Homo sapiens: one gene and its partners. The protein of the gene in region 1 purifies or fractionates together with the protein of each later gene. This does not show direct contact. Each region holds a gene or a part of one and is shown on either strand. Other genes may lie near its edges.

Region 1 (6,740 bases):
ATGTGCAGCCAAGTCAGACACAAGTGTGAGTAGCCTGGGGACTCTGATTGTGGCTGGAGTCTAAAATAAGGGCAGTCTTAGGGCAGGTGCGGTGGCTCATGCCTGTAATCCCAGCACCTCGGGAGACCGAGGAGCACGGATCACTAGAGGTCAGGAATTCAGGAGTTTGAGACCAGCCTGGCCAACATGGTGAAACCTTGTCTCTACTAAAAATACAAAAATTAGCTGGGTGTGGTGGTGGGCACTTGTAATCCCAGCTACTTAGGAGGCTGAGGCACTAGAATTGCTTGAACCCGGGAGACGGAGGTTGCAGTGAGCTGTGATGGGGCCACTGCACTCCAGCCTGGGTGACAGAGCCAGACCCTGTCTCAAAAAATAAATAAACAAATAAATAAATAAAGGCAGTCTTTTTGGGAACCTTGCCCTTTAACTTGTGGGATCTGTTTCTAATTCTAGGTAGTTAGTGTTAGAATTGGATTGAATTCTAGGATATGAGAGAATTGTTTAGAACACAGACTTTTTATTTTTTGCATTTATTGTGGTAAAATATACATAACATAAAACCTTTTAACCATTTATTTTTAAACATTTTAAGCTTCTTATTGAAATATAACAATATAGGAAACACATACACAGTACAACTTGTAAGTACACTGCTCAATCAGATTTCATCTGGATCAAGAACAGAATATTCCAATATTCCGGAAAAGAAAAGAAACATGTTAAAAAGAAAAGATTTTTATTTAAAAAACCTAGACATAGTAATTAAAATGGGGGTTAAGAGAGGTAATCTCTCTATCCCTTTGTGTGTGTGTGTATATATATATATATCATACATAATCCCATATCTATGCATCTATACCCACCCTATAATGTACCATTTTCAGAAATGGGTTTGCAGAAGACTTTCTAAGGGGTATTTGTTTTATTGTTTAAAAGATTATGTGGTAATAACTTTGGGATACACTAAATAGAGTAATCAAACAAGTTTGTCACCCAAGGAAATTTTCACAAATTCAGACTTCAGGGCCTATTGACTGATCATTCTCAAGTCAAGAGAGGAATGAGGAGAATCCTTCTTGCCCATTCTAGATATATTTTTTAAATTATGATAAAATATACATAACAAAATTTACCATTTTAACCATTTTTATGGGTACAATTTAGTGGCATTAACATTCAAAATGTTGAGCAACCATCATCGCTATCCATTTCCAGAATTTGTTCATCCCAAACAGAAACTATGTACTCGTTAAACAATAACCCCACCCCCCATTTCCTCCTCCCTGCAGTCCCTGGCAACCACTATTCTCCTTTCTGTTTCTGTGAACTTGCCTATGCTGGTACCTCATAAAAGTGGCATCATATTTGGCCTTTTGTGTCTGGCTTATTTCACTTAGCATAGTGTTTTCAAGGTTTATCCTGAGGTAGTATTTATCAGAATTTCATTCCTTTTTAAAGCTAAATAATATTCCATTGTATGTATTATAGCACATTTGTTTATCCATTCATGATAGACACTTGAGCTGTTTCCATCTTTTGCTATTCCAGTAATGCTGCTATGAACTTGGTGTATAAATAGTGGCATTTTATACATTTGTACAAATCCATCCTCATGTATTTTTGTTCTATAAATAAACTTTTGGAGGCATTTTACAATTTAGAGGTCAAATAGAAATTAATGGTAACATACATTTCAAAGAGTCCAATGTTTTATTATCGACATTAATATTTGTTCATGCTGAAGATTTAGGGATGAAGTAATGGGCAAAAAACTGACATATAATCGACACTACACAGGTATCTCTTAAGTACATAGTAATATTTTGCTAATTATTGGACTAAAAAATATAAAAGATAGAAATACATCAATTACTTTGTGTTTCATCTTTCTGCATGTACTTTTACACTAAATACACAGCAAGTACTTATACTCGGTTAAAGATTATGCTTTTTTCTTTAGCAACCAAAACATGCTTACCCTTGGTTAATCAGAACGTGTTTCAAAAGATAAAATTTCTTAAAGATACGCATGGCATTTAGGGCTTTAAACCTATACTCTTGCTGGATTGGCTGCTTGATGATTGCTCTCTTTCTTTTGTAATTTCCATCTCAATTTTGGCTTTGATTTTCTCCCAATCTATTTGGAGCTGCAATAGAAAAAAAAAAGAAGAAATATGCTTAGATAGTGTAAGACATTTTTGTTTACTCCAAAGTAACTAAGAGTAAACAGATAGACTGTGTGACTTCCAAAAGATTAGAGAAAAAGAGAGCATCAAAAGATTAGAGAAAAAGAGAGCATCAAAGTTAAGAAGAAGAAATAATGCTTGGCCAGGCATAGTGGCTTACTCCTGTAATCCCAATAGTATGGAAGGCTGAGGTGGGTGGATTGCTTGAGTCTAGGAGTTTGACAACATCCTGGGCAACATGGCAAAGTTCCGAGATGGGAAAATAAATACAAAAAATAAAAAAAGTAGCTGGGTGTGGTGGCACACACCTGTAGTCCCAGCTATTAGGGAGGCTAAGGTGGGAGAATCAACTAAGCCCTCAAGGTCAAGGCTGCAGTGAGCCGTGATTGCACCATTGCACTCCAGCCTGGGTGACAGAGCAAGGGCCCTGTCTCAAAAAAAACAAAAACAAATAATGCTCAAAAACCACAAAGTAGTTTTAAGAATAAGACCAAAAAATAAGAATTATATAATAAAAAGCAAAGACTCTCATTGTGATTTAAAAGACCAAAATCTAGTCACAGCTATTTATAAAGGTACATCTAAACAGTCCCATGGAGCCTTAGGATTGTGTACACGTGCTCAGGGACAAGGTAGGGGATGAGATGGACCGCTGTCTTCCAAACGAGGAAAAAGTGGACCGGACTCTGGTTACCAAGCCATTTTTCAAATAGGCTTCACATCTTATATACTGCAGTTTCCACTGGAAGCCTAGTTATGAGGAAAGACAGGGATTCATTAGCTTCCCCTAAGCATATTCTGTGAAAGTGGCTCCTTTGCACCAACTCTTAAAGTAAGACATGGTGGTCATTAAGACAATGAGGAAAAGATGTTAGAGAAAGCGAAGGGAAAGCAAGACTGGGAAACACATGAAAAGAATAACTGCAAAGTGCAAACATTTTTATTTGTTTGCTTCCCTTCTATCCGTTATGCAGTCTCCCCTCCCCTAGCCCAGCCCTATTCCTCTCTTAAGTTCATTAGACTTGTTAGGAATAGACTCTGCCCCTGAGTTCTATGAGCAACTTCTTTAGGAAAGCACATTCTACCAGTTAACAAAGTTTGGAGATCACTAATTTAGGAATGTTTATCCTTTCTGAGGCAAGACATGGAAAAAATTGGGTCATAGATTAAACTAACTCTGATTTACAGGAAATAAATCCAAACCCCTGAGTCTGGGCCAAAAGTGAATAGGTTTTCACCTCTGTTTAGGGGAGTTGAATGGAATAAGTAGTATTAAAGCAGAATGAAGTAATCTCAGTCTGCTTGAACAGATTTAGCTTAAGTAAGTGAGGGGTTAATTTAACTTTAATAGGACTTCATGCCTCTTTTATGCTGGAGGTTAAAGAAATTAAGTATTTTTTTTAATTCCAATATCCCATACCTGAATTGCTGTGAAGCAATTTGTAAATATTTTGGCTCACCTTTATTTAAAATAACAATGCCATATACTTATGTATAATACATAAAATAGATGAATTAATAAACGAATTCCTCTCACTCATAGAAGACAAATGTCTGTGCTAAGATGCAAGTGACAGCTCATTGAAAAGCCAAGCAGATGTTAGATTATTTGAAAGACTCATTTTTTCAATCAGGGCAAAATCTGATATTTTTTAAACGGCAAAGCACTCATTTCTATGTCTAACAAAACACTTATAGAGAAGACGAAACTTGATGGATGCTTTGGGTTTCTTCCAGCCTTAAATTGACTTACATACATTTCTCAAATCAATCACAATAAAACCATACATTGATAATATACTGAACAACTGCTGCTCTGTTGCAAGTAAATTGATGATATCTGTATTAGTTATTTGTTATAATACAAATCAGGGTGTCAGTGGATAGCTGTCCTACTGAAAATAAATGTTTCACTTTCGCTTTGGCATTGATCTAGTTTTAAAAAGTGTTCTACAGATAATTTAGTTCGTGGATTAGAATATTTTTAATAGTAGGTTTTAGATAAGAATGTTCTCTGATAGTTGTCAAGTGATTTCTACACTAAAATCCATCTTTTGCTAGTATAGGGACTGCCAATATTATCTGGCACTCCTTATTCTACTCGCTAGCCAATTCTTAGTCACCTATAAGCAATTTCAAAATCATACCAAAAGGCTCTCCATCCTCTAACACATTTCTCTTTCTCTTCCTCTCAGCTGAAGATCAGCTTCCTACTTTACAGAGAATATAGTGGCCATGAGGTATGAATTCACTTTATTTTCCTTCCTTGCATTCACGAACTTACCTGTATCTACACCCATCATTATCTTTCTCTTCCGTCTCAGGCCAACCTCTTAACATATGTCTCTGATTCCATTTTCTTTGACTCCTCTAGGACATCTGACTTCAATTATTCCTCACACATTAAATGTCCTTCTTTTCACTGACTCGCTCTCATCATCCTTGGCTCTCTATGCTGTCTTCTCCCTGCAAGCTACCATCCTTCTTCTTCTCATTCCTGACTCTCATTCTCTTCCCTGTCCACTATAATTCTGATCCTGTGACACTTTAAGAACTTTGCACTAAAACCACCTTCGGCTGTTTTCAGTCCTTATCTTATATACCTTCTCTGTATGATTCAATTTTTCATTCAACAAATATTTAGTGCTTAGTATATATCAAGGATTGTCTGAGGTACAAGGATTCACCAGTGAACAAAAAGATAGAAATCACTGTCTTCATAGAGAGATAATAAACAAAGATAAAAATGGAAAGGGCAGATAATAAACAAAACAAAAAATATATCTAGTATGCCAGAAGCGGTAAAGATTTTGAAAATAGAGAAGGGAGATAGTGAGCACCAGGAATAGAATAGGAGGTTGCAATGTCATCAGTTTACTTCACGGGAGGCCAAGGCAAGAGGATTGCTTGAGCCCAGGAGTTCAAGACCAGCCTGGGCAACATAGTGAGACCCTGTCTATACAAAAAAATAAAAAATTTAGCTGGGCTTGGTGGCATTCATCTCTAGTCCCATCTACTTAGAGGGCTCAGGTGAAAGGATCGCTTGAGTCTGGCTATGTTGAGGCCACAGTAAGCTGTCATTGTGCCACTGCACTCCAGCCTGGGCAACAAAGTGAGACCCTGTCTCAAAAAAAAAAAAAAAAAGGGGGACCTGAAGGAGATGAGTGAGACCCATGTGTATATCTGGAGAAGGGCATGGTGACATGCAGAAGTACACGGACGGCCCTGGAATAAGAGCCTTCTCTGGACCTTGCTGACCACTGCTCTTTGAAAAATCTCTCAAGACTGTATAATACCATTCTCTTCTGGCTCCTGCTCTCCTTTCTAAATGCTGCTTCTTTCTTTCTCTCTCTTTTTTCCCTATATTCTGCTCCCTAGACAATGTTGGAGAAGAAATATAATTTCTCCTCAACGCTTGTAAGTTTATTGATGGGAGAGATAGGTGAAAAGAGAAAAACAAGCCGGTTCAATAATATGTGCAGTGTACATCACAGCAGGAGAAATCTCAATGAAAGGTAACTCAAAACAGTGTCTTGGAACTCTGGGTTACATAGCATTTTCAACAAAGAACAATAAATTTTAAAGATGTGACAAGACTGTTTTTAGAGAAGTGAAAACAGTTTTAGGCTTCCAGAGATTGGAAACCATGGGAAAAAAATATATGGGAAGAAACTAATCAGGTGAGGTTTGTTCTATTTTTGAGACAGGGTCTTGCTCTGTCACCCAGGCTGGTGTGTGGTGGCCCAAACATGGCTCACCGCAGCCTCAACCTCCTGCTGGGACCACAGGTGTATGCTACCACACCTGGCTAATTTTTTAAATTTTTTTAGAGACAAGGTCTCACTTTGTTACCCAGGCTGGTCCTGAACTCTTGGGCTTGGCTTACATGATCCTCCTGCCTTGGTCTCCCAAAGTGCTGAGATTACAGGGGTGAGCTACCACGCCCAGCCACGGAGTAAGGTTTTTTGGTAGATTGCTCTGGAGTCGTCCCTGAGCTGACAAGAGTTGTCTCTAGTAAAGGAGAATTTATATTTTGTCTTTAGGAGGAAAAGGGGGAGAATAGAGCTCTTCCATTTGCTGCAGCTTGTCTTTAGCTCAAAAATATAAGTGTCAAAGAGACATATTTTGGGGTGTCATATTTTGGTTTCCTTCAACAACCTCTTAACTGTTAATATTCACCAGGGTCCAACCATAGCTTTCTAACACTTTCCCTAAGAAATATCAATTCATATAGCTTCAACTATACCTAGATGGTCAAGGCAATAAATTTAGTTTTCTAGCCCTTATTTCTCCCTTGTCAATGTCCTTTTGTGTTCATATTTATATTTCTAATTGCCTGCTAGATACCTCCTTCTGGACACCTGATAGACACTCTAATCACATACAAAATGGTATATTTTCATGTATTCAAACTCAAAGGTCCAAAATGTGTATATTCTTATGTATTCTTTAGATTAATGGCATTCCCATCTATCAGCTGCCCACACTAGAAATGTTGAAGTCATTCTCAAATGCCCTGCCTTACCTCACCACCTCTCCTCCCACCCCCAG
Region 2 (4,905 bases), on another chromosome or scaffold:
GCCTCACCCTCCCGAGTAGCTGGAACTACAGGTGTGTGCCACCATGCCCGGCTAATTTTTTGTACTTTTAGTAGAGATGGGGTTTCACCATGTTAGCCAGGATGGTCTCGATCTCCTGCCCTCGTGATCCACCCAACTCGGTCTCCCAAAGTGCTGGGATTACAGGCATGAGCCACTGCACCTAGCCTCCCATCCCCCCCTTTTTTTTTTGAGACAGAGTCTCACTGTCACCCAGGCGGGAGTGTAGTGGCGTGATCTCGGCTCACTGCAACCTCTGCCTCCCAGATTCAAGTGATTCTCCTGTCTCAGCCTCCCAAGTAGCTGGGATTACAGGCACATGCCACCACACCTGGCTAACTTTTGTATTTTTAGTAGAGACAGGTTTCACCATGTTGGCCAGGCTGGTCTTGAACTCCTGACCTCAAATGATCCGCCCGCCTCGGCCTCCCAAAGTGCTGGGATTACATGAGTGAGCCACCGTGTCCAGCCACTGTTGTATCCTTTCAACCGGTCCAGAAAGCTGTACAGTATTTACAACAAGCTTGAGAGTTAATTATGTCTTTGATAAAAGACTCAAATCCAGAACTGGGGTTGAGAAAAAAAAATCAAGACTGTTTCATAGGGTATAAAAAGACAGATGCAACCATACATTTAATTTTTAAAAATGGAATGTATCTTACATAAGGATTTTGTGAAAAATCTTATACCTATCTGAGTATTACAGAAGATGCATATACCTTCCAGAGCTCATGGAGGAAAGAGTGTATAAACAATTTTGATAAGGAGTTGAAAAACAATTTGAAAATAGTTTACAAAGAGAGAATCAGGAGGCAGAAAAAGCTTCAAGAGGCATGGTCTTCAGAAATTGTTCTGGAATGCTGTTTCACTTGTATCGATGTCATGTTCCTGGATGAGAGAATAAGACACAGAATTTTAGTATTTCAGTATAAAGCCTGAAATGTAAACTCTTCAGTGCTTTGGACTTTAGAGATTCTGAATCTTTATTAATTAGGACATATACATAATATCTGGCTTTAGGGCTGAATCCAACCCAAGGATCAAATTTTGATCCTTTTGCCCTACCATGGCAGGGCTTGTGACCACTGCCCACCACCCACCATGATGAGTAACAAACAGAGTTGAAAGCACTGGTGCAAAGACCACACCAGACTTCTTATATTGGCCTCGGGTGTCTGTCCTAGCATGCCACCAGAGTGAGTACTGCTGGGAACCTACCTGACCTCCCATCCCATCATTCACTGCTGAGCAGCCACATCAAAACCCTCATCTCTGGGTTCCCTTCATGGATGGCACTTAGACCACGGTAACTGCCAATACACTTCTGTCTCCCACTACACAGAGCTCTGAGAGGCACAGCAAGAACCGCAATCATCTTGTTCACTGCTATGGCCCCAGCCTCCAGCACCATGCTAGACGTGGAGAGTAAAACACTGCCAAATGAGCATCCGGCACAGCCAGCTTCCTTCCAGGAGAGGCTCAGAACCTAATTGGTCTTTCCACTCAGCATCTGAAATCCTAAGCTTGAATTTTGCCTGCTTACATTAAACAACAAAACACTCTTTTTTTGCTGCAAAAGTGACACAGTCACTATAGAATTTTTTTTTTTTTTTTGAGACGAGTCTCGCTCTGTCACCCAGGCTGGAGTGCAGTGGCGTGATCTCGGCTCACTGCAAGCTCTGCCTCCCAGGTTCATGCCATTCTCCTGCCCCAGCCTCCCGAGTAGCTGGGACTACAGGTGCCCGCCACCACGCGCGGCTAATTTTTTTTTGTATTTGTAGTGGAGACGGGGTTTCACATGTTAGCCAGGATGGTCTCGATCTCCTGACCTCATGATCCTCCTGCCTCGGCCTCCCAAAGTGCTGGGATTACAGGCGTGAGCCACCGCGCCCGGCCCACTATAGAAATTTTAATAAAGAAGGAAAATAAAAATTAAACACTATCTTTTTTTTTTTTTTTTAAACAGGGTCTCACTCTATCACCCTGGATGGAGTGCAGTGGCATGATCACTGCTCACTGCAACCTCAACCTCCCCAGGCTCAGATGATCCTCCCACCTCAGCCTCCCAAGTAGCTGGGACTACAGGTGCACACCACCACACCTGGCTAATTTTTGTATTTTTTTATGGATGTGGAGTTTCTGTTGCCCAGGCTGGACTAGAACTCCTGGGCTTAAATGATTCACCTACCTTGGCCCCCCAAAGTGCTGGGATTGCAAGCGTGAGCCACTGTGCCCAGCCCAAGGATAAATATCTTCTTTTTTTGGGGGGGACAGAGTCTTACTCTGTCACCCAGGCTGGAGTGCAGTGGCATGATCTCAGCTCACTGCAAGCTCTGCCTCCCGGGTTCACACCATTCTCCTGCCTCAGCCTCCTGAGTAGCTGGGACTATGGGCACCCGCCAACACGGCCGGCTAATTTTTTGTATTTTTAGTAGAGACGGGGTTTCACTGTGTTAGCCAGTATGGTCTCGATCTCCTGACCTCGTGATCCACCTGCCTTGGCCTCCCAAAGTGCTGGGATTAATTACAGGCGTGAGCCACCGCACTGGGCCCCAAGGATAAATATCTTTATGTTATTTTTTTATTATGCAAAATAATTCTATGTGTGTATTGTATTCTGTAAAGAAAGTAGAATCTCTCTATATACTGTTCTTTAGTCTCTCCCCACCACATATTTACTGTATCACGAATGTATTCCCAAGTCCTTAAACTTTTTTTTTTTTGAGTCTTACTCTGTTGCCCAGGTTGGAGTACAGTGGTGCAATCTTGGCTCACTGCAACCTCCGCCTCCCAGGTTCAAGCGAATCTCTTGCCTCAGCCTCCTGAGTAACTGGGACTACAGGCACGGGCCACCACACCCAGCTGATTTTTTTATTTTTAGTAGAGATGGGGTTTCACCATGTTGGCCAGGCTGGTCTCGAATTCCTGACCTCAAGTGATCCGCCCACCTCAGCCTCCCAAAGTGTTGGGATTACAGATGTGAGCCACAGCGCCTGGCCCAAGTCCTTAAACATTTTTATTTTTATTTTTTATTTATTTTTTTGAGATAGAGTCTCACTCTGTCTCCCAGGCTGGAGTGCAATGGCACGTTCTTGGCTCACTGCCAACCTCTGTCTCCCGGGTTCAAGCAATTCTCCTGCCTCAGCCTCCTGAGTAGCAGGGACTACAGGTGCACGCCACCACACCTGGCTAATTTTTGTATTTTTAGTAGAGAGGAGGGTTCACCATGTTGGTCAGGCTAGTCTTGAACTCCTGACCTCGTGATCCACCCGCCTCAGCCTCCCAAAGTGCTGGGATTACAGGCGTGAGCCACCATTCCTGGCCAAACATTTTTAAAAACATTTTTTATCTTATGGATGTACCCTAGGATACTTAACCAGTTCCCTATTGATGAAGATTTTTCTTCTATAAAATAATGTGGCACTGAGAATCCTGGTTGATAAATCTGTACGTATTCCGAATTATATTATTAAAACAAATTCTGAAGATTAGAATGGGTCAACGGTATATACATTTTAGGGCTTTTCAACAGTATTATAAAAATATCTCCAGACAAGTGGAACCAACTTATTCTCCATCAGTAGTGTATGAATGCCTATTTACCAAAGCTGGTTGGGCATTCAATTTTTGAAATCCTTGGAAAAAAGAAGGCCAGGGATAATTTTGAAGTTCTTGGTCCTCAGTCAGAGAAAGATGATTTCTTTTTCTTTTTTTTTTGAGACAGAGTCTTGCTCTGTCGCCAGGCTGGATGGACTGCAGTGGTGTGGTCTTGGCTTACTGTAACCTCCGCCTCCCAGGTTCAAGCAATTCTCCTGTCTCAGCCTCCCGAGTATGGGAGCTGGGACTACAGGCATGCACCACCACGCCCAGCTAATTTTTGTATTTTTAGTAGAGATGGGGTTTCACCATGTTGGCCAGGATGGTCTCAATCTCTTGACTTTGTGATCTGCCCGCCTTGGGCTCCCAATTGCTGGGATTACAGGTGTGGGCCACGGTGCCCGGCCTGAGAAAATCATTTCTTACATAAGGTGATCACCTCATGTTCTACTGCTCTGTCCTTTCCTCTGTTCTCTTGTCACACTGGCATCACTGCCGTTCGTCAAGCATACCAGGCACAGCCCAGCCTTAGGAACTTTGCACACATCTCCCCTCTGCCTGGGACACTCCTCCCCCAGATATCTGCATGGCTAAGTCTCTCAACACCTTCAAATCTTTGCTCCAATACAACTTTGCAATGAAACCCACCCTGATCTCCCTATTTAATACTCACCAGTCATCATGGCCACACTCAGCACACTTGATCCCTCTTACCCAGCTCTATTTTTTTGTTTTTTTTTTGAGACAGAGTCTCACTCTCTTACCCAGGCTGGAGTACAGTGGTGCCATCTTGGCTCACTGCAACCTCCGCCTCCTGGGTTCAAGAGATTCCCCTGCCTCGGCCTCCCTAGTAGCTGGGATTACAGGCGTGCACCACCACACCTGGTTAATTTTTATATTTTTAGTAGAGATGGAGTTTCACCATGTTCGCCAGGCTGGTCTCAAACTCCTGACCTCAGCTGAACCACCTGCCTCGGCCTCCCAAAGTGCTGGGATTACAGGTGTGAGCCACCACACCCAGCTGTTTTTTTTTTGTTTTGTTTTGTTTTTTTGTTTTTTTTTGAGACAGAGTCTCACTGTTGCCCAGGCTGGAGTGCAACGGCACGATCTCAGCTCACCACAACCTCTGCCTTCTGGGTTCAAGTGATTCATCTGCCTCAGCCTCCTGAGTGGCTGGGATTACAGGCACGCACCATGATGCCCGGCTAATTTTTGTATTTTTAGTGGAGAGGGGGTTTCACCATGTTGGTCAGGCTGGTCTCGAACTCCTGACCTCGGGTGATCTGCCTA
Region 3 (7,370 bases), about 52 Mb from region 1:
GTAATTCCTACCTCAGACTTCTTTAAAATTTATGCTTACATATGAATTTCAGAATAGCCCTCCTGGAATTATAGTTGAAATTATGCTAAATTTATAGATTGGGCAAATATGCTGACTTTTCTCATTATAAACATTGTATTCCTATTTGAATTTTTCCAAAACTTTCAGTAAAGTTTAACAATCTCTCTATAAAGATAATGATAGGTTTGTTCCTGGGTGCTGTGTGTTGCTTATTATGAGGTTTGTTTTTCTAACTATCATCTCCAGTAACTTTTGGGGTTTTAAGTGCTTTTAATTCAAAATAGTCAATAGAATACTATGCATCCAATAACTCTTTTTAGTTTGGACCTCATATATGGCAAACTTGCTGAGCTATCTTAATAGCATGTCTGTAGATTCTCTTGGATATTTTAATTAATCACAGCAACTGCAATAGTTACTCCTATCTTTTTGTCTGAGTGCACTGGTTCTGGTCTATAGGGCAGTTTTGAAGAGGTAATGTAAATTGCTTTACGAGGCACCGCTTTTAAAGATTTACATATAAATATGATTTTTTTCCTTCTAGATTTTTGGCAGACACTTTTGATGAGGTTGAATGGGGCTTAGAACATGCCACCCCAAAATATGCTGCTGTTGCATACTGATTATTGTGATATGAAGGCACCTGCGATACAGCAGATATATGAAGGGCTCTCTGACCTTCCCCTTCCTACTTAAAAGCAAGTCATAAAATTTCCCATGAGAAAGAAGCCATCCCTGTACCAGGAAATAACATTTTTATGATGGGAGCCTGGAAATTAATGCTAAAATGGGTCTGCAGAAACAAACCTATTAAAATAATCTTTATCTTCCACTAATTTTACCCATATTTTTCCTAGTCACTTGTCTACAGTTTGTCAACCTTAAATCCCTTTTCCTTTGTCTTGTCACTTCCCTACAAATGTATCATTCTTTGTTTTCTTTAAAAAAAAAAAAGGCATATAAGCTGTTGGTCCTATCCGCTTCATTTTTCTTTTGAATGCTCCCATGTGCATGTAAAAATATTAAATAAAATTTGTGTGCTTTTTTCCTGTTTACTTGTCTTATGTTCATTTAATTCACAGGCCCAGCTATTGAACCAAAGAGGGCAGAAAAAGTTTTTCCTTCTCTATAGTTTCAAGGAAGATTTATTCAGTTAGCGATTTTCTAAGTTTTTAACAACCCAAATGGGTGGTACTAAGCCATTTATAACACAGCACAGCTTTGTTCTTTAAGCCTACCCAGTTTGCCTGAAGGATTTGCTCTTCTATTTGAAGGTGCAGCTGGAAAGCCTTCCTCCATTCTAGAATCTGCCTCCTTTTCACCCCCAGCCTTGCTAAGCACCTTTCAGGGAAATCCATTGAGCTTAAATTGGCTTTGACTGGGATACTTTTTTTTTTTTGAGACAAAGTCTCATTCTGTTGCCCAGGCTGGAGTGCAGTGGCACCATCTCTGCTCACTGCAACCTCTGCCTCCTGGGTTCAAGCAATTCTCCTGCCTCAGTCTCCTGAGTAGCTGGGATTACAGGCGCCCATCACCACGCCTGGCTAATTTTTGTATTTTTAGTAGAGACGGGGGTTTCACCATGTTGGCCAGGCTGGTTTCGAACTCCTGACCTCAAATGATCCGCCTGCCTCAGCCTCCCAAAGTGCTGGGATTACAGGCATGAGCTACCGTGCCCGGCCTGGAATGCTATTTAGTTTTCAGAGTTTCACAGAAAGATCCACGAGTTTTAAAAAGCTGAGGCAGGGGAACCGCTTAAATCCAGGAGGCGGAGGTTGCAGTGAGCCAATATCGTGCCATTACACTCCAGCCTGGTGACAGGGCAAGACTCCGTCTCAAAAAAAAAAAAAAAAAAAGTTACTTTCAATTACCTCACAGATAGTTTGAAAGAAATAAAAGTCAAAGTCAGAAGGCCAGCTATTAATAGTGGCGAATACAGTAAAACCAGGGATGAAATTGAGATTTTACAGGAAGAATGAACATGGCTCATTCTCTTCAAGCTCTAACTCCTTAGTCAACAAATAAACTAGTCCTGCAAACCAAAACAACAAAAAAAAACCTGATACAACTGTATTCCCCAAAGTTTCCAAGTGGCTGAAACAGCTAGAAGAGGATTTGAGTGCATTTTCACACACACGAAGAAAACTATCAAGGAAAAGATCTTTTGATGTGTTACAAACTATTACAGGTAAACAAGGAATCAGCAAAAATAATCCCTGGGCTTTACAAAACAATGAAATTTCAGTGTTCTTTCTAAAACTTTTTATTGGGGAAACATGCAGTATTGAACAGTTAGCTTTTTTGTTCTCTTTGTGCCACAATTACTGGAAATACTTTATATTTTTGGGTTTTTTTCTTCTTCACAATTAAGGGGGGAAATTATTCTGTATACTGCTTTCAGGCCAGGCTGTGTCAGTATTTTACCTGGGAAGGAAATGGCTAAGACCCTGGGAGTCGTTTTGTTTCCCCCAAGTTAAAATACATACGTTGCTGGAGGATTTATCAGCTAAAAAGCAACGTTTGACTATTTCATACTGTGTTACGTAACTTCCTGAAAATGTCAGAACATCTTAAGTAGGCAGCATGCCTGGCAGGAACATCTCCCTCCCTGAGTGTAATAAATTTACTTCCAAAGTCTGAGAGCTTTTTCAGAGTCATGTAAAAAGCCCCAGTTTGCTTGTTAGTTAACTTAGGACCCCAAAACATATCTAAGCTTTCATTTTTCAGTCTTATAAAGCCATACATCTATCTTACACTACTGTGACTGTTATACATACATATAACACCCCCAAGCTGCACATGTGGTGGTGGTTGGGGTATGGACTTATCGGGGAGAATCACTGTTTCAAAAAGGCAAAGACCAGGAAAGATCAATTTGGTAGTGGGGTAACATCAAATCCAATTTTCTCACTCAACTTTATTAAAAGCAGCTGGCTCATGACTTGTGGTAGGCAAGCAATGTTATTTATTTAAAAAGCAATTCTCAGTGGGCTGCCCTTCAGGTTATTCTCTACATAAGTCTGTAATTTTATGTACTTCCTTTCTTTAATGAAAAAATGGTATTTGCCCTTCTGACTTTTCACTTTGATAACCTTATTAGTATCAGAAACAAGTTAGCTGTAGACGGATTACAATGAAAAGTGTTCTCATTTTTTCTAATAAAAACAGGATATTGTAGATACATTTCAAATTTCAGTTGTCCAAAAATGTAGCCCTTCTATATTTTGTAGTGGCAGATACAAGAGATCAGAGAGCCCTTAAAAGTCACGTTATAAACATGAACATATGTTCAATCTCTTGTACTAAGTTTTCTTCCCAAAAACTGCCAGGCATCCACCACTTACCTCATTTTTTGCAACTGTTAAGAAAATTGCCTAATACAGAAGCCTTTTGAAAACTGTAAAGCTGGGCCATTTCTGTGGTCAGTTATGTACCTTTTCTTAAATTTTCTAGGTCAATAACTGCAGAATACAGTAGTAACACCCTATCTTTAGCCACCCTTAGAGCTTTAGGGCAGGGAAATTCCTTTTAAGACCATCTCTATTCTGTTGGATTTAACGAAGTACCCAAACACTTTATACTACATGTAATGGGTTTGAAACAGATTAAGCAGCAGGATGGAAGCTTAGTATTCTTGTTTTTGAAGTAAAACAAATCCTTCCAAATGCCTCCTTTTGTTCATTGTCTTCCTCATCCTTCCAACCACTTTCCTAGCACTGGAGTAACAGCCAGGCAACGTAATACAGTACTTCAAGCTTTACAATATACTGTTAAGTGCAGCATTGCCTAGTGAGAGAAAGATAAAATTAAAGAAAGAACGAGAGAAACCTCTCGTTGGAAAGTTCCTGCAGTAAAAGTGAAACCTATGGTATTGACTATCTTTACAACTATGAAAAACTTTTCAATTCTGAGAAAATAAAGGTATCAGTGAGCCAGTGCAGCCTTCAGTGCTACACGTCTTCACCTCCCTTTAATCTTTTTAACAGCTACTAGCTGACCCAGATGCCCGCTTAATTGCTTTTAGCAACCACCAGGTCCAACACACCTCAAGCCAGCTCAAGACTCACTAGGCAAGCGGAGCAGAAACGTAAGCCGGCTCCCTTCAGACTTTCAGCGAGGGAGAAGACGCAGCCGGCAGTGGGGCGCGAACGCCACGCCTCCATGAGGGGCGGGGCTGCTTCCCGACCACCATTTCCACAGAGGCAGGGCAAGAAGAGGGCCACAGGTGACGTCATTCAGGAAAGCCGCCCTGATTGGAGGGAAGGAGGCGGAGTCTAGTTTCCCTGGTGACGGATTGTCCGGTGGTCGCCTGGTAACCGGTCGTGGCTGTACTGGCGGCGGCAGGGCTGGCGGCTTAGGCCGCAGAGGTCTGTGGGCCTGAGCCCACGCTGGACTCTGTCCGTTCTGCGATGACTGCTGCTCTGGCCGTCGTCACGACGTCGGGTTTGGAAGATGGGGTGCCTAGGTCCCGTGGCGAAGGGACCGGGGAAGTGGTCTTGGAGCGGGGGCCCGGCGCGGCCTACCACATGTTCGTGGTGATGGAGGACTTGGTGGAGAAGCTGAAGCTGCTCCGCTACGAGGAGGAGTTCCTCCGGAAGAGCAACCTGAAGGCCCCGTCCAGGTGGGTGCCGGCGTCCCCGAGCGCCCGGGTGCCTGCTAGCCCCCAGGGAGATGCCCTCCTTGGTCCTGCTGGGAACCAGTTTCGTGAGAGCGGGTTAGCAATTCCTTGCCTCCGTCTTCCTAGCCAGGGAAGGGCACTTCACCCCAAACTCCCGGGAGGTCCGTGGAGCTCACGCAGCCCTGACTTGGTATTTTTGTAGAGAGAATAAATAAGTTTTGGAACGGCAGAAAGGATCGGAAGACAGCTTGCCTGTTTTTTTCCAACACACACGCATTACCAGAAAACACAAACTATATTTTCTGATTGTAAAGATGAAACAAATACTCATTGAAGAAAACTCAGAAAAACACAAGTAAATGTCTAGAAAAATTATAAGACCGTCCAAAATTCGCCTCCAGAGAGGAATGCCATTATCACTTAAGGCTTTTTTTCTAGTTTGGGGTTTTTTGTTGTTGTTTAAGACCCTGTTCATACAACTGGGGACCGTGGGTACTTAGGATCCTGTTAAGGAGCACTTTAAATGCGGTTAGTAAACTTGTTAACTACTTGCTATGGTTTAAAAGACTTCTGCCTTTGTAATAACCATACTCTCAGAAACTGAAAAGTGGAAAAGACGAATGACAACTATTGAATTGTCCCCCTATCATAGAACCTAAAGTTTTACCCTTGTTCCGGTGGGGGAAAAGTCCAACATATCCTGAAAGCAATGCCATTACTTGCTGAGGGTAGTGGTCAGCTAGGACCTTCTCCTCAAATCACTGTAGCTTAGCAGTAGCCAGATAAATCAGTTTTATAGCTTTTCTTTCACTTTAATACTTACATTTGTATATTTTATTCCATAAAAGGCAATCAGTATTAAGAATCTATAGTACTTAATGTCTACAGCCAGGCTCAAATAATTTCCCTTGATAGTTTTAATCTCATTCCACTGCTGTCTTCCAATAACTTGAATTGAAAGATATGTAGGCTTGATATAAACTGTTCATATTAAATTAGTCCATGGTCGGAGAAAAGATAAAGGAAAAAGTAGTGTTGCTTGATCCATGTTAGAAAAGGTAGTCCTGGGATTATTACTTAAAGTGAATTGATCAGGATAATATAGACAACCAACATTTCCTATGTTAATAAAAATGCATTTTTTTCCAAGTATATTTTTAAAATGAAAACAAAATGTCCTTAAGGTTCTGTTGATGTCATCTCTTGCACTGTGTCCTCAGGGGTTCAGCAGGATACTTTGAATCATGGATTTGTGTGGGGATATCCTAGTCCAATGGTTCTCAAAATGTGATCACCAGACCAACAGCATCAGCATCACCTGGGAACTTACTAGAAATGAAATTCCTCAGGCCCTTTCCCAGGTCTACCTTTTCAGTAATTATAGGGATGGGGCCTAGCATCTGTTTCAGTAAGCCTTCCAGATGATTCTGATGGACACTAATGTTTGGGAACCACTGTCCTAGGTTTACAGTATCTATTGGTGTTCATTCCTCTGCCCTAGAAGAGTTATCTGCCGATAAGGAAAAGATGACTTTTTGGTGGGTGGGTGCTTTGAAAGGATAGTGAGCATATACCTGGAAGGACTTCATGGCCTTTTTTCTTCCCAGCTTTCTGTTATCTTCCAGAACATTTACATTTATCCTGCAGGAAAAAGTTTGGGAAACATGAAGGAGTACACGACAGATTTTTATGACAATGGTTATAATAGTTGTAAATACATTGTAAACATAATAATGATAGCTACACATGAACAAGACAAATAAGATCTTTGATTAAACTGACTTGAATGTTGTTGCTAGTGAGTTTTATTCCTATAATGTTTAGGTATAAATCATACTGATCCTCGTAGAACTGTGTTTAGTAGACTAGGGGATTAAGCAAGAGCCCACAGATGTTTGACTGGTGATGTGACATTCACAGGTTCTTAATCCTGACTACACCTTATAAACATGTAGAAATCTTTTGAAATATACCCCATACTGGGCCTACTTTCACTGAAGTTCTGATTTAATTCATTCATGAGGGAAGAAGCAATGTTTGGTCAAGTACCAGTATTTTTATTAGCTCCTCAGGTGATTGAATATGCAGCCAACATAGAAACAAATGTTCACCATAGGTGATAGGTTAGAAACAGTAAAAATGCATAATGAGTAATCGTTGAGGTCTTTTTTAAACTCTGAGGTTCTTCCAGATTACCATTTTCATTCATAAGGTACTTACATATTATTACTGACACTTAAATCATTTTGGCAAAAATTCTACATGCTCTGTGCTCTAACATGCACTACATTTCCTGGGTGTAAGGTCTTTGATCTAATATTTTGGGTACAGTAGTAATTGCCCTAATCCTGCTGATTTAAAAACTTCAATGTGAGTGCTGTGGATTACTGGAAACTTCAAAGGGTGAATTATCGAGGTCTTTTGATGGCCATTTGGGGGGAAGAAAGATTGTTGGACAATTGTGAATTCGGCCCTATTAGTTATTATAGACTTATTTGCATTATTTCACATCCGCCCCCATTCCTCCTTGTTTTGAAACAGACACTATTTTGCACTGCCTACCAACCCTGGCGAACAGTTCTACATGTTTTGTACTCTTGCTGCTTGGTTGATTAATAAAGCGGGACGTCCCTTTGAGCAGCCTCAAGAATATGATGACCCTAATGCAACAATATCTAACATACTATCCGAGCTTCGGTCATTTGTAAGTGTAAACGACCCTTCTTTTTCC

What was found.
Region 2: the proteins of IFT80 (region 1) and IFT52 purify together in Homo sapiens (affinity purification with mass spectrometry; 2 studies listed by BioGRID and IntAct, with this or other methods). This does not show direct contact.
Region 3: the proteins of IFT80 (region 1) and IFT57 purify together in Homo sapiens (affinity purification with mass spectrometry; 5 studies listed by BioGRID and IntAct, with this or other methods). This does not show direct contact.

What each region holds. Positions count from the first base shown.
Region 1 is NC_000003.12:160,256,486-160,263,225, forward strand, and holds the end of IFT80 (intraflagellar transport protein 80 homolog), read right to left. Parts: intron 2,151-6,740; coding exon 2,040-2,150; 3' UTR 501-2,039; downstream 1-500.
Region 2 is NC_000020.11:43,642,937-43,647,841, reverse strand, and holds the end of IFT52 (intraflagellar transport protein 52 homolog), read right to left. Parts: intron 907-4,905; coding exon 859-906; 3' UTR 543-858; downstream 1-542. UniProt on the Homo sapiens protein: Involved in ciliogenesis as part of a complex involved in intraflagellar transport (IFT), the bi-directional movement of particles required for the assembly, maintenance and functioning of primary cilia. Required for the anterograde transport of IFT88.
Region 3 is NC_000003.12:108,219,383-108,226,752, reverse strand, and holds the start of IFT57 (intraflagellar transport protein 57 homolog), read left to right. Parts: upstream 1-4,328; 5' UTR 4,329-4,430; coding exon 4,431-4,642; intron 4,643-7,180; coding exon 7,181-7,343; intron 7,344-7,370. UniProt on the Homo sapiens protein: Required for the formation of cilia. Plays an indirect role in sonic hedgehog signaling, cilia being required for all activity of the hedgehog pathway.